Regions from separate parts of the Homo sapiens genome. Here all the other regions are linked to region 3. The links come from fine-mapping of genetic effects on gene expression. A gene starts in region 3. Each other region holds a variant in brackets. All regions are shown on one strand. Distances are from middle to middle.

The links. PIP is the estimated chance that this variant, and not a neighbour inherited with it, causes the effect.
Region 1: its variant is the best candidate, but not a certain one, in a credible set for the expression of NRROS in whole blood (INTERVAL, PIP 0.76).
Region 2: its variant is the best candidate, but not a certain one, in a credible set for the expression of NRROS in whole blood (INTERVAL, PIP 0.82).

Annotation. Positions count from the first base shown.
Region 1 is chr3:196,614,093-196,622,271 of GRCh38, reverse strand. No RefSeq gene overlaps it. Among named protein-coding and RNA genes, the nearest start is that of LINC01063, 14 kb to the left of the region's middle. RefSeq lists an enhancer at 1,989-2,058. The variant T/C (reference allele first, on the strand shown) is at 4,981.
Region 2 is chr3:196,657,763-196,665,941 of GRCh38, reverse strand. It overlaps NRROS (negative regulator of reactive oxygen species), which reads right to left. Exons shown (of 3, transcript NM_198565.3): 3 at 3,938-6,190. The coding sequence ends at 4,220. Among named protein-coding and RNA genes, the nearest start is that of NRROS, 22 kb to the right of the region's middle. RefSeq lists enhancers at 1-515, 5,693-6,268. The variant T/C (reference allele first, on the strand shown) is at 3,233.
Region 3 is chr3:196,635,556-196,643,734 of GRCh38, reverse strand. It overlaps NRROS (negative regulator of reactive oxygen species), which reads right to left and starts at 4,041. Exons shown (of 3, transcript NM_198565.3): 1 at 3,860-4,041. RefSeq lists enhancers at 1-62, 193-242, 1,687-1,746, 1,767-2,116, 3,285-3,404 and 1 more and silencers at 3,855-3,954, 3,975-4,404.

The DNA of each region.
Region 1 (8,179 bases), 21 kb after region 3:
TTTGCCTGCCTTGCTGTTTTCTTGAGGCTGAACACTCACAATCAAAGGTAATTTTCCAAATGTGGACATAGAATGTGCGTTGCGTGGCCAGGCACGGTGGCTCACGCCTGTAATCCCAGCACTTTGGGAGGCCAAGGCGGGTAAATCACCTGAGGTCAAGAGTTTGAGACCAACCTGGCCAATATGGCAAAACCCCATCTCTACTAAAAACACAAAAATTAGCCTGGCATGGTGGCGAGTGCCTGTAATCCCAGCTACTAGGGAGGCTGAGGCAGGAGAATCGCTTGAACCCGGGAGGCGGAGGTTGCAGTGAGCGGCTGAGATTGAGCCACTGCACTCCAGCCTGGGCAACAGAGCAAAACTCTGTCTCAAAAAAAAAAAAGAACGTGCGTTATGATATATTATGTCATATCATAGGAAACAGTTGCCATCTGCAAGTTAGGCAATTTGAGGAGAGTTTAATAAAGGGACTAGTACCCAGTGTGGTCACGGCAAAGCGGGAGCCCAGGACTTGCCCCAAAGGGCTGTTACTTCCCTAGGTCTGGGGGAGGCAACAATGATCAGAGCCCAAAAGGTGAGAGTCCACAGGCGCCTGGAGAGGCTACTGGAGAAGCCCTGTGACCCCTGATCTAGGGAAGCAGCTCCCCGAGGAAGCCCTGCAGGAGGAAACCAGGGGAGCAAACACGCGACCACTCTCCCCTCCCTGACGGGGATCCCTGTTTAGGGACCCCAGCTAGAGGACAAAGGACACAGGTCTGCTGAGCAGAGAGCAGGGTGGGAGAGGGTAGACAGTGGATCTGGAAGCTCAGACGGAATACATCCGGCCCGTTGTGATTCTATGCAACAGTGGGATGAATGTTACCTGTTGGTTTTGTTTGTTTGTTTTGTTTTGTGTTGAGACAGATCCTTGCTGTGTCGCCCAGGCTGGAGTTCAGTGGTGTGATCTTGGCTCACTGCAACCTCCGCCTCCCGGATTCAAGTGATTCTCCTGCCTCAGCCTCCCGAGTAGCTGGGATTACAGGCGTGCACCACCACCCCCCGCTAATTTTTTTTTTTCTATTTTTTAAGTAGAGATGGGGTTTCACCATGTTGGCTCAGGCTGGTCTTGATCTCCTGACCTCGAGTGATCTGCCCACCTCGACCTCCTAAAGTGCTGGGATTACAGGCGTGAGCCACTGCATCTGGCCACCTGTTTTTTTTTGTTTGTTTGTTTTTTTAAACGTTGTCACCTGTTTTACTTCTATTATACTTTTCTAATATGTTATGTGCAGTAGCATCTTTGCACTGAATGTTCTTAAAGAGCCCTTAATGACTTATTCTTTGCCTTGCAATGTGTCATACTAGAAATAGAACTTAAATTATTATTTCCCGAATGTGTGACCAGGCATTTACTTACACCAAAACCTAGTCACTTTTCTTACTGTTAACATAGCTTCACACAATTTCCCCACAGAACTATTCCCATCAGTTTGACTTTTTATTACCTAAAATAACTTAATATTAGTCTCACTATTTATAGCCTATTATTTTTATACTCTCCTCCAGATAATGTATACAAGCAACTTAAAGTACAATCTGGACTAATGAGGACTCTTTTAATCACTAGTGATAGAAACCCAACTCAAACTGGTGTAGCAGAGGAATTGATCGGTTCATGTTACTAAAAAGTCTGATTTAAAGCAAGACTGGATCCACGCGCTCAAACAATGCTTTCAGGAATCTGTGTCTCCAACTCTCAGCCCTGCTCTCCCCTGACTCTACCCGGGTGGCATCAAGGGTGCGTTCTGGCAGTTTCGGGCCCATGGCCTGCTAGTCTAGCAATACCAGGGGGAAAGAGGCCTCTTTCAAAACAGTGCAGCAAAAGTCCCAGGACGGAACCCCCTTGTGTGACCTGGGGTCAAGTGCCTCTTCCGCAATCAGTCACTGTGGTTGGCGGGTGGGATGTGCCTATTTTTCTGGACTGACTCATATGCCGATTCCTGAAGCTCCACCCAAACGACATGGGCTCCTGTTGATGGAGTAGGCCCTAAAGAAAAGCAGGTGCTTTCATCAGAAGAGGGGTAGAGGTTGTACAGAGAAAAATCATGCTCATCTTCTTCCCAAGGTTAGTACTGATTCCTTAGAAGAGTTACTGTTTATACTTCATCCACAGAAGACCGTTGGTCTCCATCCCTCATTCCTGGTTTCTAAGCAACTCCCCGTTTACCAGAAAACAGCACTTGCAGTCCTAGAATATGTGTAGTTGCTTTTAGAAAGTAAAAAGGTTTTTGAAAGACTTTTCATTTTGTTCTGTACCAAGAAAAATTCTTCTGCCTTGGGATCCTGTTGATCGGTGACCTTACCCCCAACCCTGTGCTCTCTGAAACATGTGCTGTGTCCACTCAGGGTTAAATGGATTAAGGGCGGTGCAAGATGTGCTTTGTTAAACAGATGCTTGAAGGCAGCATGCTCGTTAAGAGTCATCACCACTCCCTAATCTCAAGTACCCAGGGACACAAACACTGCGGAAGGCCCCAGGGTCCTCTGCCTAGGAAAACCAGAGACCTTTGTTCACTTGTTTATTTGCTGACCTTCCCTCCACTATTGTCCTATGACCCTGCCAAATCCCCCTCTGCGAGAAACACCCAAGAATGATCAATAAAAAAATAAAATAAAATAAAATAATTACCAAAAAAAAAAAGGTTTTTGAAAATGTAAATAGATTACCTATAACAAACACACACGTTTCCCCATAACAGAGTTTCAATAGAATAAAATTCCCTCTTAATAGCCTGGTTGTCTTTTCCTGTAATTGCTTGTGTTTCCTGAGGAGTTCATTACAAAGACCAGCTGACTTGTCGAGTTGCATCGCAGTGCAGAGAGCGCCGGAAGGAGAGAGAAGCTCACACTTTAGATCCAGCTCTGTTGCTCACAAAGGGCCTTGTTTGTCCATGAGTAAAATGAGGTTGGACAAGAATTCCAAAGTTGATTCCAGCAATAAGAACTTAGAGTTCTATTCTGAAATATGTATCATCAAAGAGATAGGAGGGCAGGCATACCACTCATTTAGGACAGAGAGGTTAAGGTCCTCAGCCTGCAGCCATGGGCCACAGATGGGAGGAAGAGTTGCAACCCCAAATTTCACAGGCTTAAAGAAGTTTATGTGCATTAAAGGACGCAATCAACAGAGGGATAAGACAAACCATGAGACGGGAGAAAACATTTGTGAATCACACATCTGATAAGGAGTTAATATCCAGAATATATAAAGAACTTTTATAACTCAACAACAACAAAAACAACCTCATTTAAAAATGGGCAAAGGGCTTAAGTAGACAATTCTTCAAAAAAGATAAACAAATGACTAACAAACCTACGAAAAGATGCTCAACAGCACTAATCATTAGGAAAATGCAAATCAAAATCTTAATGAGATATCACCTTATACCTATGAGGATGGCTGCTATAAAACACACACACAAGGCTTGGCGCAGTGGCTCATGCCTGTAACCCCAGCACTTTGGGAGGCCAAGGCGGGTGGATCACGAGGTCAAGAGATGGAGACCATCCTGGCCAACATGGTGAAACCCCGTCTCTGCTAAAAATACAAAAATTAGCCGGGCGTGGTGGCTGGCACCTGTAATCCCAGCTACTCAGGAGGCTGAGGCAGGAGGATCACTTGAACCCGGGAGGCGGAGGTTGCAGTGAGCCAAGATCACACCACTGCACTCCAGCCTGGTGATAAAGGGAGACTCCGTCTCAAAAAAAAAAAAAACCAAAACAAACAAAAACAAAACAAAAACAAAAACAAAAAAACATACACACAAACCTGAAAGCAACAAGTGTTAGAAAAGATGTAGAGAACCTGGAAGTCCTGTGCACTACTGGTGGGAATATAAAATGGTGCTGCCAGTATAGAAAACAGTGTGATAGCTCCCTAAAACCTTATAATAAGAATTACCACAGAACCCAGCAATTCTGCTTATGGGAATATACCCACAAGCATTGAAAGCATCCAGGGGCTGTGGAGAGGGAGAAATAAATGTTTAGTGTATGGAGAGTTCATTCTGAAAGATGAAACACTCCTGGAGATTGAACAACAGTGGGGATACACTTAACACTGTTGAACTGTACTGTTACAAATGGTTAAGATGGTAATTTTTTGTTACATGTATTTTACCACGATTTTTTTTTTTTTTTGAGACAGAGTTTCACTCTTATCGCCCAGGCTGCAGTGCAATGGCGCGATCTCGGCTCACTGCAACCTCCGCCTCCCGGGTTCAAGCAATTCTCCTGCTTCGGCCTCCTGAGTAGCTGGGATTACAGGTGCCCACCACCACACCCGGCTAATTTTTGTTTTTAGTAGAGATGGGGGTTTTACGATATTGGCCAGGCTGGTCTCGAACTCCTGACCTCGAGCAATCTGCCCGCCTCGGCCTCCCAAATTGCTGGGATTACAGGCGCGAGCCACTATGCCTGTCCTACCACAATTTTTAAAAGAACTTTAAAGCTGGAAGGGAACTTAGAGATCTTTTAGTCCAAACCCTTTGTTTTACAGAGAGGAAAACTGAGGCCCTAAGTGTTACATTATTTACACAAGAACAGAACACAGTAGCAGAGACGGAAGCTCCATCTCTCAGCGCTGCTGTGATATCTTAATTTTACATGTCAGCTTAGCTGGGCCACAATGCCGAGATATGTGGTGGGGTTTTTTAATAGAAAAAAAATGAACCCATTGACTTTTCAGAGCAGTATGTGGTTAAACATTATTCCGGATGTCTTTGTGAGGATATTTTTGGATAAGATTAACATTTAAATCAGTGGACTTTAAGCAAAGCAGATTACCCTCCATAATGCGAGTGGGCCTCATCCAGTCTGCTGAAGGCCTGAAACAAAAAGACTGCTCCCTGGAGGAAGAGGAAGTTCTCCAGCCTGCTAGCTCACGCTGCAGATTTTGGACTAGCCCACCTCCATAATCTATGTGAACCAATTCCTTAAAAA[T/C]ATCTCTTTCTCTGTATATATGTCCTTGAGAATCCTAACATATCTGCCTTTTCTTTTTCTGACCAATTGTGACTTTTAAATAAACATCACTTGGCTGAGTGCGGTGACTCACGCCTGTAATTCCAGCACTTTGGGAGGCCGAGGCAGGCAGATCACTTGAGGTTGGGAGTTCGAGACCAGCCTGACCAACATGGAGAAACCCCATCTCTACTAAAAATCCAAAAAAAAAAAAAAAAAAAAAAATTAGCCAGGCGTGGTGGTGCATGCCTGTCATCCCAGCTACTTGGGAGGCTTAGGCAGGAGAATTGCTTGAACCAAGGAGGCGGAGGTTGCAGTGAGCCGAGATTGCGCCACTGCACTCCAGCCCGGGCAACAAGAGCAAAACTCCGTCTCAAAAAAAATAAATAAAATAAAATAAACATCACCTGACATTTGTGTGATGCAACAGCAACCATGCAGACTTCTCTTTGGTCACAAGAGAGGAAAAGAAACACAATAAAGGAGTCACAATAAAGGGGTCACAATCAAGGGGTCACAATCAGAGGGTCACACTGTTAGCACTAATGCAGGGGTTAATATTAGCATCACTGATGGGAGAACAACCAGAATATGTCTTCCACCATGGTGCGCACGAAGCACCCAGCAGCACTTAGGATATATCCTTGCTAAAAGTGTCTAACTTGAATTAAATCAAATGTTAACATCTCATTGATCATTTATAGGAAATAAAGGACACAGAAGAACCAGCTAGAACACTGTAACTGCAGCCATAAAAATGAACGAAATGTGGCCGGGCGCGGTGGCTCACGTCTGTAATCCCAGCACTTTAGGAGCCTGAGGCAGGTGGACCACTTGAGGCCAGCAGTGTGAGACCAGCCTGGCCAACATGGCGAAACCCCGTCTCACCTGAAAATACAAAAATTAGCCGGGCATGGTGGCGCGCACCTGTAATCCCAGCTACTCAGGAGGCTGAGGCAGGAGAATCGCTTGAACCAGGGAGACGGAGGTTGCAGTGAGTTGAGATCGCATCACTTCACTTCAGTCTAGGTGGCAGCGTAAGACTCTGTCTCAAAAAAAAAAAAAAAATGAAATTATGTCCTTTGCAGCAACATAGGTGGAGCTGGAGGCCATTATCCTAGGTGAACTAACTCAGAAACAGAAACTCCAATACTGCATGTTCTTACTTCTAAGTGGGAACTAAACAATGGGCACACATGGACATGAAGATGGAATGGACTCCAGAAGGGGGGAGGGTGGGAGGGATGAGGGGCAAAAAATTACCTATTAGGTACAATGTGCACTATTGGGTGATGGGTACACCAGAAGCCCAGTCCTCACCATAATGCGATATAACCCATGTGGCCAGGTGCGGTGGCCCACACCTGGAATCCCAGCACTCTGGGAGGCCAAGGTGGGAGGATCACTTGAGGTCAGTAGTTCAAGACCAGCCTGACCAACATGATGAAACCCTGACTTTACTAAAAAAATACAAAAATTAGCCAGGCGTGGTGGCGGGTGCCTGTAGTCCCAGCTACTTAGGAGGCTGAGGCAGGAGAATCACTTGAACCCAGGAGGCAGAGGTTCCAGTGAGCTGAGATCGTGCTACTGCACTCCACCCTGGGCAACAGAGCAAGACTCTGTCTCAAAAAAAAGAAAAAAAACAAAAACAAACAAACAAACAAAAAACCATGTAACAAACATGCGCATATACCCCATCAGTCTAAAAAAAAAAATGTAGGTCGGCATTTGAGTCAGAATTGGTATGTTGTATGATGTGGATAGTGATTGAGGATTTTCTTTTTTCCAATATAACTAGAATAAATTTCAGGTTATTCTGAAAATAAATAAATAAATAAATAAATAAATAAATAAATAAACATGAAAAAGCTCTAGGCTGGGCACGGTGGCTCACGCCTGTAATCCCAGCACTCTGGGAGGCCAAGGTGGGCAGATCACTAGAGGTCAGGAGTCTGAGACCAGCCTGACCAACATGGTGAAACCCCATCTCTACTAAAAATACGAAAATTAGCCAGGTGTGATGGCGGGCTCCTGTAATCCCAGCTACTCGGGAGGCTGAGGCAGGAGAACTGCTTGAACCCAGGAGGCAGAGGTTGCAGTGAGCCGAGATTGTGCCATTGCACTCCAGCCTGGGCAACAGAGCAAGACTCCATCTCAAAAAAAAAAAAGATAAAAGAAAAAGCTAAATTCCCATTGCTCCCAAGCTGAACAAATTCATGAATTTGAAATACTACCATGTGTATGTTTATTACCTCTGTTACTGGGACTCTATAGACTGAATACTTCTTGAAAAAAATTATTCTTGGGCACTATGGCTCACACCTGTAATCCCAGCACTTTGGGAGGCCAAGGCAGGCGGATCATAAGGTCAGGAGTTTGAGACCAGCCTGCCCAATATGGTGAATCCCCGTCCCTACTAAAAATACGAAAATTAGCTGGATGTGGTAGCATGCGCCTGTAGTCCCAGCTACTTGGGAAGCTGAGGCAGGAGAAACATTTAAGCCTGGGAGGTAGAGGTTGCAGTGAGCCAAGATTGCACCACAGCACTCCAGCCTGGGTGACAGAGCCAGACTCCATCTCAAAAAAAAAAAAAAAAAAAATTTTTTTTTTTTGAGATGGAGTCTTGTAAAATTTATCCTTTTTTTTTTAATCTTATTTTTTTGAGATGGAGTCTTGCTCTGTTGCCCAGGTTGGAGTGTAGTGGCATGATCTCGGCTCATTGCCACCTCTGCCTTCTGGGCTCAAGCAATTCTCCTGCCTCAGCCTCCCAAGTAGCTGGGATTATAGGCGCCGGCTACCACACCCAGCTAATTTTTGTATTTTTAGTAGAGATGGGGTTTGACCATGTTGGCCAGGCTGGTCTCGAACTCCTGACCTTAGGTGCTCCGCCCACCTCAGCCTCCCAAAGTGCTGGGATTACAGACATGAGCCACCGCACCCGGCCAAAAAAATTATTCTTGAATTTAACTGTCTCAAGTAGAAGGTTCATGGCGTCTGAGTGGTACCACTGTCATGTGATGTGTAATGTGAACTATACTGATGATATAATAATGGCGTAATGAACTATGTTGATGATATATGATATGTATTTTGTTTGGTTTTTCTTTTTTCTTTCTTTCTTTTTTAGACGGTTTGGTTCTGTGGCGCAGGCTAGAGTGCAGTGGCATGATCTCGGCTTGCT
Region 2 (8,179 bases), 22 kb before region 3:
AGGGTGGAAAAGAGTGGGAAGTAGATCTGGAGGGGCAAATGGAAGTTATCTGGCACATTAAATAAATAAAAAGTGATATGACCAGTGATACAAACCAAGGATTAGAGTTTGTCCAATTGCTTGCAACTGGGGTCGTTTAAAAAAAGAAATCAGCAGGCGCCGTGGCTCAGCCTGTCATCCCAGCACTGTGGGAGGCCGAGGCGGGCGGATCACAAGGTCAGGAGTTCGAGGCCGGCCTGGCCAACATGGTGAAACCCCATCTCTACTAAAAATACAAAAATTAGCTGGGCGTGGTGGCAGGCACCTGTCATCCCAGCTACTCAGGAGGCTGAGGCAGGAGAATCGCTTGAACCCGGGAGGCGGAGTTTGCAGTGAGCCGAGATTGCGCCATTGCACTCCAGCCTGGGTGACAGAGCAAGACTCCATCTCAAAAAAAGAAAGAACGGAAAAAAATCAATTGATCCCTAACTTAAATGCCTCCAGAAAAACCTTCAGCTTTTGTTTTATGACTGGATTTCCAAAATCTAAGTTACTGTTACTCATGTTCACAGACCAGTCTCTGACATGATTTATCTGTGATTCTGAATATCCTCCTGTGTGAATATTCTGGCATGTGGCAACCGGAAATGGCCCCCTACTGCCCACCCACTGAGGAAGAACCACGTGGTGCCCCACCTGGCTGAATGGGAGCTCTTAGGCAGACACCATTCTGGCCCCACCGAAGAACTCTGGTAACAGGCTTTGTGGGTCCTTCCCTCGCCAGTAGGTTCTCCTATGGGTCCAGGTCGGAGTGGGAGAAGCAGGGAAAGGGGACAGAATTTGCTGGGGGAACCATAGCTGAGCACTGAAGGCAGAAAGCACCTTCCCTATGTAACTTTCCGCATACTGAGAGAAACCTAGAAAATCATCCTTTTTTTTTTGAGACGGAATTTTGTCTTGTCGACCAGGCTGGACTACAGTGGCGCCATCTCTGCTCACTGCAACCTCCGCCTCCCAGGTTCAAGCGATTCTCCTGCCTCAGCCTCCCGAGTAGCTGGGACTACAGGCACACGCCACCACGCCCAGCTAATTTTTGTATTTTTAGTAGAGATGGGGTTTCACCATATTGGCCAGGCGGGTCTCGAACTCCTGACCTCAGGTGATCCACCCACCTCAGCTTCCCAAAGTGCTGGGATTATAGGCATGAGCCACCGCACCCGGCAGGAAATCACCTTTGGATCCTTGTGATGGAAAACACTAGGAAGGAAAGCCCACAGCCTTCTAAAGTCACAGTCACAGGCAGGGCTGGGGCTCAATTTGTCATCCTCCCGGGCTGGACCCCAAGAACAGAAAGAGTGGGTGGTCAGCTACATGGTGTGACTTGAGGGGCTTCAAAAGTCCTGCTGAACCCCAAACTATCTCCCCGACTGCCCTGAGTTTCTGTCTGAAGTTTCCATCATTTGAGTCATTTCTTTGTGCTAAGAATTTGCTTCCAGAAGTTGCCTGCTAAAATGTACACGCTGCCTGGGCGCGGTGGCTCACGCCTGTAATCCCAACACTTTGGGAGGCCACAGTGGGCGGATCACCCTGAGGCCAGGAGTTCAAGACCAGCCTGGCCAACATGGTGAAACCGTGTCTCTACTAAAAATACAAAAATTAGCTGGGTGTGGTGGCGGGCGCCTGTAGTCCCAGCTATTCAGGAGGCTGAGGCAGGAGAATCGCTTGAACCTGGGAGGCAGAGGTTGCAGTGAGCAGAGATCACGCCACTGCACTCCAGCCTGGGCAACAAAGCGAGACTCAGGCTAATAAATAAATAAATAAATAAATAAATAAATAAATAAATAAAATGTACATGCAGCCATAAAAGGATACGGGACTTACTTTTCATTCATTTTGTTTGCTCAACGTCTCACTTCCTTTCTTAGGTTTCAAGAACTCTGCCCCCTCATAAGAATTTGGAGGACACGGAGCCTATCTTCTGCCATAGACACCTCGCCAAGGGGTACAGCATTGCCGTGCCAGTCCTTCTTGTACTCAGGGCAGGGGCACATGACCACGGTCAGGAGCTGGCGATGCAGCAGAATTTGGGGAGCATTTATTTCAGCAGAAGGTGGCAGGGGTGGCTGCAGCCATGCTCCCACAGTTACTGCTCATGGCATGGTTTGGGCTGAGGTCAGGAGTTCGAGACCAGCTGGTCCCAATTGCTACACAGCATCTTCTGTTCCTGCCCATTTTCCAAGCCTGTTCCTCAGCCTTCCCGAGAGTCCAGAGCTTACTAATATTCTCTTACTAAATGCGTAAGCTACTTAAATCAGACAGAACCGTCTTCAGTTGCATGAGACTAAGAACACTGATGGATACCAGAGGTGACGCATTAACTCAAGAGAAGCCGTCAGTGCACCAGCCACAGATAGATGCATTTGTCTAATTAGCTAGTGTTCACATTAGGAAACAGCAGGACCCCAGAGAAGGGTTTTGTTGATGGGGAGAGGAAATCAGGAGAGTCTGGTCTGATGTTGCGTTGGCTGATGGGACTTGCCCGGAAGGCTTCAAGGCAACCTGAGAGACATCCACGACACTAGGCTGGGCGCAGTGCAGGAGGGAACGGTGGGGTCATAGCAAGGGCAAAGCCCAACAGGACCTGCCGCTAACGCTACTGAATGTGGGGCCTGAGATGGCAAAGCCTAACAGGACCTGCCGCTAACGCTACTGAATGTGGGGCCTGAGATGGCCTTGTTCAAACCTCTGTAGAGCATCCAAGGGAAGTTTCTGCTGTGTCAGAGTAAGACCACTGATTTTATCTCTTTGATTTGCCTAAATATTTCTGCTGACAGTTAGTCTGCATGGTAATAGCTATCAGTTTGTGGGATTTCTAGCCTCTCTCCCTCCCCATCCCTCCCCCATTGCGTTTAATTCCTTTATGATTTAGTAAGCAGGGATTAAAAACTTTGAGGACAGTGTAAATTCTAAACTACCAGAGGACGGGGGCTGTGTCCTTGTTATCTTTTCTCTCAGAGAGGAGCACAGACATTGTTCGTTAGTCATTGAACAGAGGGAGAAGGGAAGCTAAGAATCTAGTGAATACAGATACTGAACATCTGCTATGAAGTTGTAAGCAATTTTTTGTGAAGAGTTAGGAGGGTTCACAAGTGAGCAGAATTCATTCCTTTCTGCATTCCTCTTTACTTCCCTTCAGAACGAGGACTGTCTCTGGCAGTCGGCTTACTGACTGGATAAACTCGGGGCCAGTTAT[T/C]ATTCTCTTGGTTTCTCCATGGAAGAGTCATGTCTGTCTGCCAGAGACTCCGGGTATGAAGCCAGGGCACCTGGAGAGGGCCCAGCTAGAGGTCCATTATTTTATTTATTTGTTTATTTTTTGAGACGGGGTCTTGCTCCATCGCCCAGGCTGGGGTGCAGTGGTGTGATCTCGGTTCACTGCAACCTCCGCCTCCTGGGTTCAAGCAATTCTCCTGTCTCAGCCTCCCAAGTAGCTGGGATTACAGGCGCCCGCCACCACACCCGGCTAATTTCTGTATTTTTAGTAGAGACGGGGTTTCACCATGTTCGCCAAGCTGGTCTCGAACTCCTGACCTCAGGTGACCCGCCTCAGCCTCCCAAAGTGCTAGGATCACAGGACCGTTCTGACGGCGGTGGCCAGTCACGCAGCAGGTGAGAGGCCTCATCTTATGATCTTATGTCAGACCCTCCAGCTGTGCTTTGAAATGCTTTGTTGTCGTCGTCCTGCTATGAAATCCTTGTGTCGTCGTCCTGCTATGAAATCCTTGTCCCTGTTGAGTCCCCAGGGCACTGACTCACCATCTCTAGCACCTGCTCTTGGAGTTCTTTTTCCAGTAGGTTGCATTGAATTGCTACCCTCGGCTCCATGGATGTCACCAAGGGGAGGACACTACAAAATAATCCAAGGGAAACCAAGGAACAATAAAAAAAAACACAAGCTGCATTTAATTTAAAAAATATTTATGAGACACGTTGCCTTTTATTTCTGAAAAAGTCACTTAATAAATATTTTACCAAGATAATGAGGATGAATTATAATGATGGAAAAAGAACTTGGGCGGTGGTGGGGGCGGGGGTGGGGTGGGCGATGAGGAATGGAAACATATTAAATTTTAATTGAAACTTCAATTCGTCAGACTTGGCCTCTGCATCACATCTTGAAAGCTGGCAGAGAAAGTGTCCTGTTGTGTGCGGACCGAATTTCGAGTCTTGGCACACAGCCAGGTCAGTAAACGGAGGACCAGTGGCAGCGGCTCTTGATGACCTGAAGCAGAGGCTTCTTAAAAGTGAGGACGATGACAGTGCAGGCCACCAGCAGGGTGAGGCAGCTGGGGAGGATGAGCACGAGGTAGAGCAGGCCCAGGTCCAGCCGCTCCCACTTGCAGTCCCGAGGCACACCTCCGGGCAGCTCCGTCACGCGGATGATCTTGGAGGAGAGGTTGCAGGTGACCATGGCCCAGTCGGCCACCGTCTGCCCATGCTGCAGGGCCCCCCAGCCATCCACCCCACAGCAGTCATATGGATTCTGACTGAGGTAGATGGTCCGCAGACCTCTCGAGAGCTGCTCAGACACAGCCTTCTGGGGAAGGGCTGTGAGCGAGTTTCTACGGAGATCCAGGGTCTCCAGGGCCAGGCTGCCCCCAAACCTTGGGAAGGTGGTCAAGCAATTCCCCGACAGATCTAAGTCCCTGAGATTCCCAAACCCAGAGAAGTCCAACGCCATAAAGCTGGAGTGGAGGCCCATGTTCCTGAGAGACAGGACCTGTAACATGGGGGCAACATCCTGGAGTGGGGCGAGGCTCCCATTCAGAACCCCCCAGTTGCTTGAGAGGTCTAAGTAGGTCAGGGAGGTCCCTTGGAATGGGCAGTCTGGCAATGCCCCCAGGCCACAGCCCTCCAGAGACAGGCTCCTTAAAGATGCCATATTCCTGAAATCCACACAGCTAGGGGGGCCCACCCGGTCCGAGGCAGCTGGCAGGGGACAAAGTGAGATCTGATTGTGGCTCATGTCAAGTGTAGTGATGTTCCTAGCATTGGCGAAGAGGCCAGGGGGGACGCCCAGGAGCTGGTTGGAGCTCAGGTTGAACAAGCGCAGGCTGCCCAGGCAGCTGGCCAGCCCCGGAGCCAGGTGCAGCTCCGACAGCTGGTTGTGGCTCAGGTCCAGCTCGGTGAGCGCTCCGGGGGGCTCGTGCTCCCGAATGTGAAGCGTCATCAGGCAATTCTGGTGGAGGTTCAGGTGGGAGAGGGAAGGCATTTTCCTCAGGAAGCCGTCTGGCAGGTACTGGAACTGGTTCTGGCTCATGTCCAGGAAGCGGAGATCTGCGAGGTCGCTGGAGGAGAATTCTTCCCAGAGGCTGACGGTGGTGATGTTGGTCACGTTGCCGTCCACGAGGAGGAACTGGGCCACCATCTCCCTCGGCGACGAGGTGTTGTACAGGTCCCGGTAGAAGCCCATGTTGTTGTCGCGCAGCAGGAGGGTCCGCAACTTGCTGTACTGGGGCAGCAGCGGGAAGAACAGCAGCTGGTTGTGAGACAGGTCCAGCGTCTCCAGCTCGAAGGCAGCCTCTCCCCCGGTCGCGAGGAACCACTCCAGGACGTTGTAGCTGACGTTGAGGACCCGCAGCCGCGTGAGCCCGAAGTCCACGATGCAGGGGAGGTTGTTGAAGGCCAGGTTGAGGTGCCTCAGCTCAGCCAGGCCGTCGAAAGCGCCGCCCTCGATCTCGAAGATGTAGTTCCTCTGCAGATCCAGCTCCCGGAGACGCTCCAGGCCCTCGAAGACGGAGTCGTCCAGCCGCATGATGGTGTTCCCCGCCAGGGACACGGACCGCAGCGAGGAGAGGTTCTGGAGCATGAGGGCTGCCATGTCCTCCGTCAGGGCGTTTCCTGACAAGTCCAGCCTCCGCAGGCCCGGCAGGGCGTGGAGGGCGGCTGCCGTCTCTTCGTAGTTCTCTGAGAGGCAGTTGTCCCCCAGGACCAGGCTGCGCAGGTGACCTTGCTCCTGGAAGGCGCCGCGGCTGATGCGCTCCAGGTGGCAGCTGTGCAGGCTGAGGCTCTCCAGGAGAGGGTAAGGCTGGAGGGAGTGATTCCACAGGGTCTTGAGAGGGTTGGCATCCAGGGTGAGCATCCGGGCGTGGGGCGGGAGGCTGCTGGGCACCGAAGCGAGGCTCTGCCCTCGGCAGTCAGCGGCTCCACCCACCTGCGGCCAAAACCACACCGGTCAGCAGCGAGGAGGCCCAGAGGCAAGCATTTATGCATAGAAACTTAGTTCACTTATCAGACTGTCCCTGCAACCGCCGGGGATGGCTCTAGAGATGTTCATTTTAAAAATAGGATAGACAAGGCCGGGCACGGTGGTTCATGCCTGTAATCCCAGCACTTTGGGAGGCCGAGGCAGGTGGATCACTTGAGGTCAGGAGTTCAAAACCAGCCTGGCCAACATGGTGAGGTCCTGTCTCTACAGGAAATACAAAAAACTAGCCGGGTGTGGTGGTGGACACCTGTAATCCCAGCTACTCCGGAGGCTGAGGCAGAGAATTGCTTGAACCCAGGAGGCAGAGATTGCAGTGAGCCGAGACTGCACCACTGCACCACTGCACTCCAGCCTGGGCGACAGAGCAAGACTCCATCTCAAAAAAAAAAAAAAAAAAAAAAGGACTTGAGAGCTTTCACCATCCTGAATTGTACAGGGAAGTAAAGTGGGTCTGGAGGGGAGAAGTGAAGAGCCAGTGGCTGTGCCGGGACTGGAGCCCAGGGCTCTGAATGCCCAGTTCAGTGCTTTTCCTAAACAGGGCTCTACTCTGATCATGCAGAATAAGGAGGCGGGAGGGACGAGGCCACCCTGGTCGCACTGCAGAAAGCACACGTGCAGGATACTTTAATTCACCCCACGCTTTGCAAAATTGGCAAAAACAACCATCAGCCATAGGATGTTATTTAGGTGTCTAGGACAAAAATGGTTTTTTTGTTTTTTGTTTTTTTGAGATGAAGTCTTACCCTGTCACCCAGGCTGGAGTGCAATGGTGTGATCTCAGCTCACTGCAATCTCTGCCTCCTGGGTTCGAGCAATTCTCCTGTTTCAGCCTCCCGAGTAGCTGGGATTACAGGCACATGCCACCACGCCCAGCTAACTTTTTTTGTATTTTTAGTAGAGACGGGGTTTCACCATGTTGACCAGGCTGGTCTCGAACTCCTGACTTCAGGTGATCTGCCTGCCTCGGCCTCCCAAAAGTGCTGGGATTACAGGCGTGAGCCACCGTGCCCGGCCAGAAAGAAGTTTTAAGTGATAAGATAGAGGAGCAATGGCATTCGTTTGCACAAGTTTATCAGTAATACAAGGGCAGTGGTTGCCTACAATTGTGGGTTCAATCCCAGAGGGCAAGTGCAGCACGGCAACAGAAGAGGAAAATCCCGAGAGAGAGGTTAGAAGAAGCACAGGTTTGGAGGACAGACTCAATCTGAATCTCGGCTCTACCACCACTAGCAGTGGAATTTCTTGGCCCCTCGGGTTCTTTATCTGATAATTAAAATAAAACCTTCCAATAATTAAACATTGATACTGTATTGACATATGGAAACCTCAACTCTTCTGTCACCTCCGCCTCTCTCTCAGAGAAACACCAGTCACCTTCTGTTCCATGTCTTTCTGGATCTTTCGTAAGATATTACCTACCTTTGTCTAAAAAACAAAAATAAGACCATACTGTGCAAACTGTTCAGTAACCTATTTTTCTCCCCCTGTCAATAAAGTATGACGGACTTATTGCCTTGGCAGTACAAATAAATGTGATCATAATCTTTTTAGGAAGCATATGCATTCATCTCATGAATAGCACAGTGGCTGAGAGCAAGAGTTCCAGGGCCAATGCTTCGTGGCTCTGCTTTTGATCAAATGGGTGACCTTTGGATGGTTACGGAACCGAAAGAGACCTCCATTACCCTGCCTGTAAAACCGAAATTATACTCGTCATTTTCGCATAGCGTTTTTTTTCAGGATCAAGTGTGACTGTTGAGGTGAAACACATTTACTGTGCTTAATAAATGTGAGCTATAATTATTAGGATGATCTAATTAATCATCTCCTATTGTTGAGCATTTGGGTTTCTCTAATTTCCAGACGAACGTTAGAAAGGATTTGCCAAGTTCTTTCCACATCCCCCTTCCCTCTTTGGTATTTTGATTGGGATTG
Region 3 (8,179 bases):
GTCCATGTCCAGTTGACATCTGAAATGGAGTGACATGAGCTTAGGAGAACACGATGTGTACCCATGGGTGGGCCCCTGCCAGGCACTGTGGGTGTGGGGTTGCCTTAGACACTTAGGTCCTGCTTGAGAACAGACAGGTGAAAAGACGGAGCGTTATGTGCTCTCTCTCCTGGGAGAAATCCCCTCCCGGTCCTTCTCTTTCTTGGAGGTGGCAGCAGAAAGTTGCTTGGTGCACATGGCGCAGCACCTGCCTTAGGCAACCTTTTGGGTTGGGGCTGGAGGAGGGGAGTCCCTGTGACCTCACCAGGCTTTGTGGCCACATTGAGCCTATCCAGTACCAGCCTGCTCCTCGCGCCCACCTCGTGGGTGAGGACCATGACGAGGTTCCACTTCCTCCTTTCTTCACTCTGTTCACTCTGAAATCCCTCAGGCATTAAAGTGAGAAAAGACACATTGGCTTGGGGTCAGCACCTGACTCCGTTCGCTCTGGAAATTGGTTGGTTTCGCCTACTCACTCACATTCGTTTCTCCTTCTGGTAACAACCCCTCAATTCCCCTTTGAGAAAATCACCCCCTTTCTTTCCTTTTTTTCTTTAGAAAATGTTTAATTGTAGTAAAATACACAAAACATGAAAGCGATTATCTTTTTTTTTTTTTTTTTGAGACAGAATTTTGCTCTTGTGGCTCAGGCTGGAGTGCAATGGCACAATCATCTCGGCTCACTGCAACCTCCGCCTCCAAGGTTCAAGCGACTCTCCTGCCTCAGCCTCCTGAGTAGCTGGGATTACAGGGACTCACCACCACACCCAGCTAATTTTTGTATTTTTAGTAGTGACGGGGTTTCACCATTTTGGCCAGGCTGGTCTCAAACTCCTGACCTCCTGATCCACCCGCCTCGGCCTCCCAAAGTGCTGGGATTACAGGGATGAGCCACCGCGCCCGGCCGAAAGTGACCATCTTAACCATTTTTAGGTGTACAATTCAGTAGTGTTAAGTACCCTTACGCGGCTGTGCAACCAACCCCCTTCCTTTCTTCAAAAGTCTGTGTGTTCGGGTCTGATCCCAGCTCCTGGTTCCAGGGCGGGGCCTATGAGTAAGGCTGGGCCCGTGAGAGCACTCCATTTTCCTAACAGGCTCATCATAAAAGCCAAGCCCATGAGAATCAATCCACGGGCAGTTGCTAGAACTCATGGAAAGGAGACTTGCTCTTTCTGTTTCAGATGCCAAACCAGTAGGAATATAGTTGGAGCTGCAGGCAGCCATCTTTGCCACCAGCTCCGGGACTTGCCTGGTAAAGAGGCCCACAGAGAGGAAGGCAAAGCTGAGGAAAGGAGACAGATGGATTCCTGGCAATGCCATTTGAGCATCTGGACTCAGCCATGCCTGAAACTATTGCCCATACACTTTTCAGTTATTTGAAACAATAAATCCTTTTTTTTTTTCTTTTTTGCCGAAGCATATTTACGTTGGTTTTTTGTCATTTGCTACCAAACCAATCTATCTAAGAATCTGATTCTTGAACTCGGGTTTATTGTTGCACGTGAGGCTTATAAGAGCTAAGATCCAAGCACTGATGTCCTTTTTCCTTCACGTCTCTGAGCTTTCAGAAATCATCACCTAACCTAGCCCTGAGCCCCATCACAGAATGACCACATGACATTTGCTTCATGATGAAGTTGAGAAAAATGGTTTGGGAGGAAAGTGAGTATAATAAAGAAGTTCCACCAAAGGCAAAAACATGACAAATGTTTGTCACTGATGTGCGATGACACATCAACAAGCATCAGTGAGCACAGACATCTGTAAGTGTGTCATACACACAGCATGTCCTAAGAAAGACAGTGTTTTCAGTCGTGGTTGAAAGTCCACCCTCTCCTGACTTCTGAGGCTCTAAAATGGATCTGCGCCTGATGTGAGGGACAGTCATTGTCCATACGAGAGTCTGGTGCACACTGTGCAGTGTGGACGCACACCGCAGCCAGAATGCAGGTTGTCATCAGTACTAGCATCTCTCTTCCAAAAGAGTCAAGACTGGAGACAGACAGGTCAATGTACTCTTAATGCACACCCCAGAACAAAGATACTAGGCGTCTGCTCTCTGTTTTGGAGTCTACCAGGTATGTCTCATCATCAAAGAGCAGGAACTCTTGGATGATGAATTTAAAAACTATAAGAGAATGTGTTTTCATGAAGTTCCCATGAGGGCACTCATTACATGAAAGCTGGGGGCGGTGACTCACGCCCACACTCCCAGCACTTTGGGAGGCCAAGGCAGGAGGATTGCTTGAGCCCAGGAGTTTGAGACCAGCCTGGGCAACACAGCAAGATCCTGTGTCTACAAAAAAATTTTAAAAATTAGCTGGCATGGTGGTGTGCACCTGTTGTCCTAGCTCCTCAGGTGACTGAAGCAGGAGCATTATTTGAGCCCAAGAGTTTGAGGCTGCAGTGATCTGTGATCGTGCCACAGAACTCCAGTCTGGGCAACAGAGCAAGAGCCTGTCTCTAAAAATAAATAAATAAATATATATATTTTTAAAAAGTGCCTTCTTTGTGAAGCTGAGTTTGTTTTGTTTTGTTTTGTTTTGTTTTGTTTTTTTAACCTAAAGGCAGGAGTTAAGGTTTTTTCCTGGGCCCATGATTCTATAATCTCCTTTAGGGACTCTCGGGCACACACACACAAACCTAAGAGGTGTGTGAGGAGAATAAATACGTATTGTAAATGTAAAGCCCAGCAAACCCTCAGCATCCACAGAACAGTCTGTGTGTCACAGCCGGCAGGTGAGGAGCACACAGGAAAGCATGGAGGGCCACAGACGCTGAATGTTTCTAGCACCCAGACTCCTAACGGGCTGTGCCCATCATGAAGAAGCCTCCGGTGGGGTCCCCTCAGCCCCTAGGGAAGCACAGCAGCCCCGACCAGCCCTGTCCGGAGAGGCTCCATTCCTAGGACCCCCGATCCGGCCTCCTCCAGTCGCAGCCACCAACTGGCACGTGTCCACCTTCTCTCAGAGGCAGCACAAAGCCACACCAGTGGCTCCTTACTTCTTTCCGTCTAGCTCCTGGGTACGTGGGGAAGTACGCTGACCCCTTCAGAAGCCGGCCCACATGCAGGGGCCACGAGGGCTACGGAAGAGCGTCCGAGTCTTCGTCGCCCTCCTGTTAGTCTCCCTCTGATAAGCCATGGATCTAAGTCTAGGCTAAGATCCAAGTCACAGAGCCCCAGTGAATCTCCCAAGGACAAACGTTCTGTGGGAGAAGGGGCTTTGCACATTTTCACAGCTGTATCCCCAGGGCCTTGGACAGGCCTGGCACGTGGACGGCATCTGTGATAGGTGTTGCTGTTAACCAGTCTTAGTGTCTTCATCTATGAGATAGTGGTTCTCAATCCACGTTGTGGGACAGGAAAGGAGAGCCCAGTGCTCAGCATGCTGAGTGTGCACAGAGCGGTCTCATCATATCCAGTCGCCCAGCCCAGGGAGGGAGCATCTCTGTTCCCATTTTGCAGATGAGAAAACTGAGGCTCAGAAACCTTAACTGTCTGCTCACATGCTCCCTGCAGAGCCAGGACTCAAACCCACGTCTGAATCTGAAGCCCTCGTGGTTTCCACTACGTCGCACCACCTTTCTCAGCTCTAAGTGCTCCTGGAGGGAGGTATTTCCACCTCCACCCAGAGCTGCAGCCCCCACGCCCAGCACAAAAGCGGCGGCGCTTGGACGCAGCAAGCCACAGCTTCCTCGTGAGCCCTGAGCTGCGGGCCGCGGACGCTGACCTCCTACCACCCAACCTCGCTCGAGCTCGCCCACCTGGAGAAGGGCCCCGGCTGTGCCCCGGGGACGCCCCCACGCGGGAAATACTCACGGCTCCCGCAGGCGCAGGCGGCTGCGCGGGGCGCATCGTCTCCGGGGGCTCCGGCCTCCTCGAGAGCAGCCGAACGCGGGGCTGGGCTACCTCCTTGCTGTGGGGCATCAGATTATTTTAGCACCAGCGGAAGGAACGGACGGAAACTGAAGTCACATGGAGAGCGGGCTGCTCGGCGACTCAGCACAGGCTCACTCAGACCCGGCCTCTTAGAGGGAAGCGCGGCGCGGGCGCGGGGGTGGGGCGGGCCGGGGGAGCGGGGCCCGAACACCTGCCGGCCTAGCGGCCGAGCAGCGGGGATGTTTAGACGATCTTCCAGCAATGCGACCGAGGCTCCCCCGGCTTTCTTGCGTTGGTGCCTTGGCAGGGCTGGGGGCGGCCAGCTAGGGGCCCCTTGCCTATGAGGTCTGCTGACCCAGAAACTTTGCTACGAGCTTCCAGCCAAGGACCAAGCTGAGGCCGACTTTGGGAACGGCAGCACCGTGGTAAAGAGGCACAGCCTGTCGTCTGGCAGGGTCAGCCGCTCAGCCAGTCTGTCTTCTTATCCACTCAGCCGGTCCTTGTGGATCATCTCCTTTACGGACCCTGTGTTAGAAAGAAGGGGAATTGCTTTGTCGAGGACTGTCAGAGAGTGCCAAGAGCTTCTTGATCTTAGACTGCGCGGATGGGTTTTTTTGTACCTGATGTGTACAAAGTTCCCTGCCAGCTCTTGCCAAGAATTCAAAGGAGTAAGAATAATTGATCATATAGCCATCATTGAAGCAGCGCCAGACACTGTGCTAAGAGCTTCATATGCATTACCCCAGCGCTCCTGTTCTCGAGGAACTACTGTCGTCTAGAGAAGGTGAAATATTTACAGTGCCTGCTGCGTGTGGAGTGACGTGGACCACCATAGTCGGGGGCTCAGACAAGGGGCCTCCAGTTCTGATCTCTCTCACTCCCCTTCAAATCTGAAACGTTGAACTGTCCTGCAGGATTGGGTCACCTCTCTTATAGCCTGTGATTTGGGATTGTGTGTAGCATTGTCCATCCTAAGAGAACAGGAGCCAAGTCCTTTTCACTCCAAACATCTGGCACATTGTCTCTGCTTTCTACAATATTCACTCATGGCCGGGCACAGAGGCTCAGGCTTGTAATCCTAGCATTTTGGCAGACCAAGGCAGGTGGACCGCCTGAGTGCAAGACCAGCCTGGGCAACATACTGAGACTCCATATGTACAAAAAATTTAAAACTTAGCCAGACCTGGTGGCACGCACCTGTAGTCCCAGCTATTTGGGAGGCTGAGGTGGGAGGATCACCTGAGCACAGGGAGGTTGAGGCTGCAGTGAGCCAAGATCACGCCATTGCACTTCAGCCTGTGTGATAGAGTGTGACTCCGTCTTTAAAAAAATAAAAATAATTTTAAAAATAAAATATTATCTCATAATGGTAATAACAATCACACCAATGAAAAAGCTAAATAAAGATCAAATTGTTGCAAACCCAGGTGCTTGATTCAGGCCTCTTTCTCTCTTGTATGCACATTCTCTACTTCATGTCTTTTGTGTCTACCAATCAGTTGGTAACTCCCCAATTTTAATTTCTAGCTCCAACATTCTCTTCCACGAGAGAAGATCCAGACTTGCATTTTTAACTGTCTACTGGTCAATCAACTGCTACATGTCCCAGAGTCACCATAACATGATGTATCCCAAACTCAACTCTCTCTCTTTTTTTTTGAGACAGTCTTGCTCTGTCACCCAGGCTGGAGCAGTGGCGCAATCTCAGCTCACTGCAACCTCTGCCTCCCAGGTTCAAGTGATTCTCCTGCCTCAACCTCCCAAGTAGCTGGAATTACAGGCGCCCACCACCACGCCCAGCTAATTTTTGTGTTTTTAGTAGAGATGGGATTTCACCATGTTGGCCAGGGTGGTCTCAAACTCCTGACCTCAGGTGATCCGCCCACCTCAGTCTCAGAGTCCTGGGATTACAGGCATGAGCCACTGTGCCTGGCCCCAAACTCAACTCTTATCCTTTGTCCCAGCAGTTTCTCTCCTGTATGGCTGTCACACTTTACGGTATGTTTCAGCCCAGGCAGTCCAGCCCTCACAGACTTCATCCTTCATATCTAATTGACCCCCAATTCCTGCTGATTCTAACTCAGAAATGTTTCTGGAATCCAACCTGCTTTTCATCCTTAGGCTGTTGCCCTGGGTCTAGACCTCATCAGCTCATGTCTGGACCACTTTCATAGCCTCCTGAAACTCGCTCCCTGCCCCTAATCTCATCCCTGTCCAATGTCAACTCCACCTAGCTGCCACGGGCATCTTTCTAAAATGTGTATTGGGTCATCTCACTCTCTGCTTAAAGCCCTTTTACAGGGTTCAGCAGGTTCAAGGGTTCCTCATGAATGCCTAAAGACTGGCAGGTGGGATCCAGGTACCCCATTCCCTCCACATCCCAAGAATTCTACTTTGATATGTTTTATACATTGGGAGATTCTCTATAGAATTTCTTTTGAGAAAGGCAGCTGCTACCCCTAAAAAAAAAATCTAGTAAACCAATGGTCTTTTTTTTTTCTTTTTAATTCTTTTTCTTTCTTTTTTTTTTTTTTTTTTTTTTTTTTTGAGACAGGGTCTCACTCTGTTGCCCAGGCTGGAGTTCAGTGACGCAATCAAGGCTCACTGCAGCCTCGACCTTTGGGATCAGGTGATCCTCCTACCTCAGCCTCCTCAGTAGCTGGGACCACAGGCACACACCACCATGTCTTTTGTATTTTTGGTAGAGACAGGGGTCTCACCATGTTGTCCAGGCTGATCTCAAACTCCTGGGCTCAAGCAATCTGCCTACCTTGGCCTCCCAAAGTGCTGGAATTACAGGTGTGAGCCACTGCACCCGGCCCCAGTGCTCTTGATGGATGTGTAGAGACAAGCCAGTTGGTTGGCAACACCAGCAGCCCTCCCCTAGGCTAGCAGCACGCTGCCTCAGTGGGTGGAAGCCTGGACGTCCAGCTGAAACCAATGCAGATTTCAGCTGAAAGGAGAACGTGCCAGCACGGCTGGAAGCCCGACTGCACAGCTCAGCATCCTCCAACTTGGTTGGGCTCCCCCCTCACTATGCTTTTCGAGGCAGAGGAGACCAGGGTGCTTCCTCTCAGATGCAACCCTGGTGCATCCAGGCCTGGTTGCCCTGACCAAGCTCACCCCTCCACAGGATCATGAGAATTTCTGGGGGGCCATGTGCCTCTTGCTTTGAGCCTGCTCCACCTATTGGGGTGTTTGCTGTATTCCACTCAACAGGAATAAAGCAAGTCTAGTGTCAAGCAGCGCAGCAGCGTCTCTGATCCGAAGTGAAAGCAAGAACCCAGGCGGCTCCCGGCTGGAGGAGAAAGTCCATTCGGCCTGAGCTGCCTCCAGCCTCTCTTCACGACTACCGCCCATGCTTCATGATCACTGCACACATGGCCTGCAGGTGGGTTCACCCAGCCCGGGCTGATCACGATTTTCCCAAACACAGAACAAACGCTCCCCACTCTCTACTCTCTCTGGCAGAGGGTTCCCTTGTTTGGAATGGCCTCTTCTGCCTACCCCAACCCTCCCCATCCCAAAGGCATGGCTTGGACTCCCCTCCTCCATGAAGCCTTCCCCACTGCAATTGCCACCTTGTCCTGTGAACACATGGTGCCAGCGTTCCCATAATCCACCGACCTCATGACATCTCTTGTGTTGTGATTTAATTTTTTGGACTTCTGCCTTTTTTCCACAACTACACTACAGACTTTTTTTTTCTTTTGAGACAGAGTTTCACTCCCGTTGCCCAGGCTGGAGTGCAATGGTGCCATCTCGGCTCACTGCAACCTCCGCCTCCTGGGTTCAAGCAATTCTCCTGCCTCAGCCTCCCAAGTAGCTGAGATTACAGGCGCCCGCCACCACTTCCAGCTAATTTTTTGTATTTTTAGTAGAGACGGGGTTTCACCATGTTGGCCAGGCTGGTCTTGAACTCCTGACCTCAGGTGATCCGCCCGCTTCAGCCTCCCAAAGTGCTGGGATTACAGGCGTGAGCCACCATGCCTGGCCCACTACAAACTTTTGGAGGCAGGGTCATGTGTTATTCCAAAAAATATACTATCTTATGCACATAAAGGGGCTTGGTGACTATTTGCTCAAAGAAAGGAGGAGGAGGCCGGGCGCAGTGGCTCACGCCTGTCATCCCAGCACTTTGGGAGGCCAAGGTGGGTGGATCACCTGAGGTCAGGCATTCAAGACCATCCTGGCCAACATAGTGAAACCCCATCTCTACTAAAAATACAAAAAATTAGCTGGGCGTGGTGGTGCATTCCT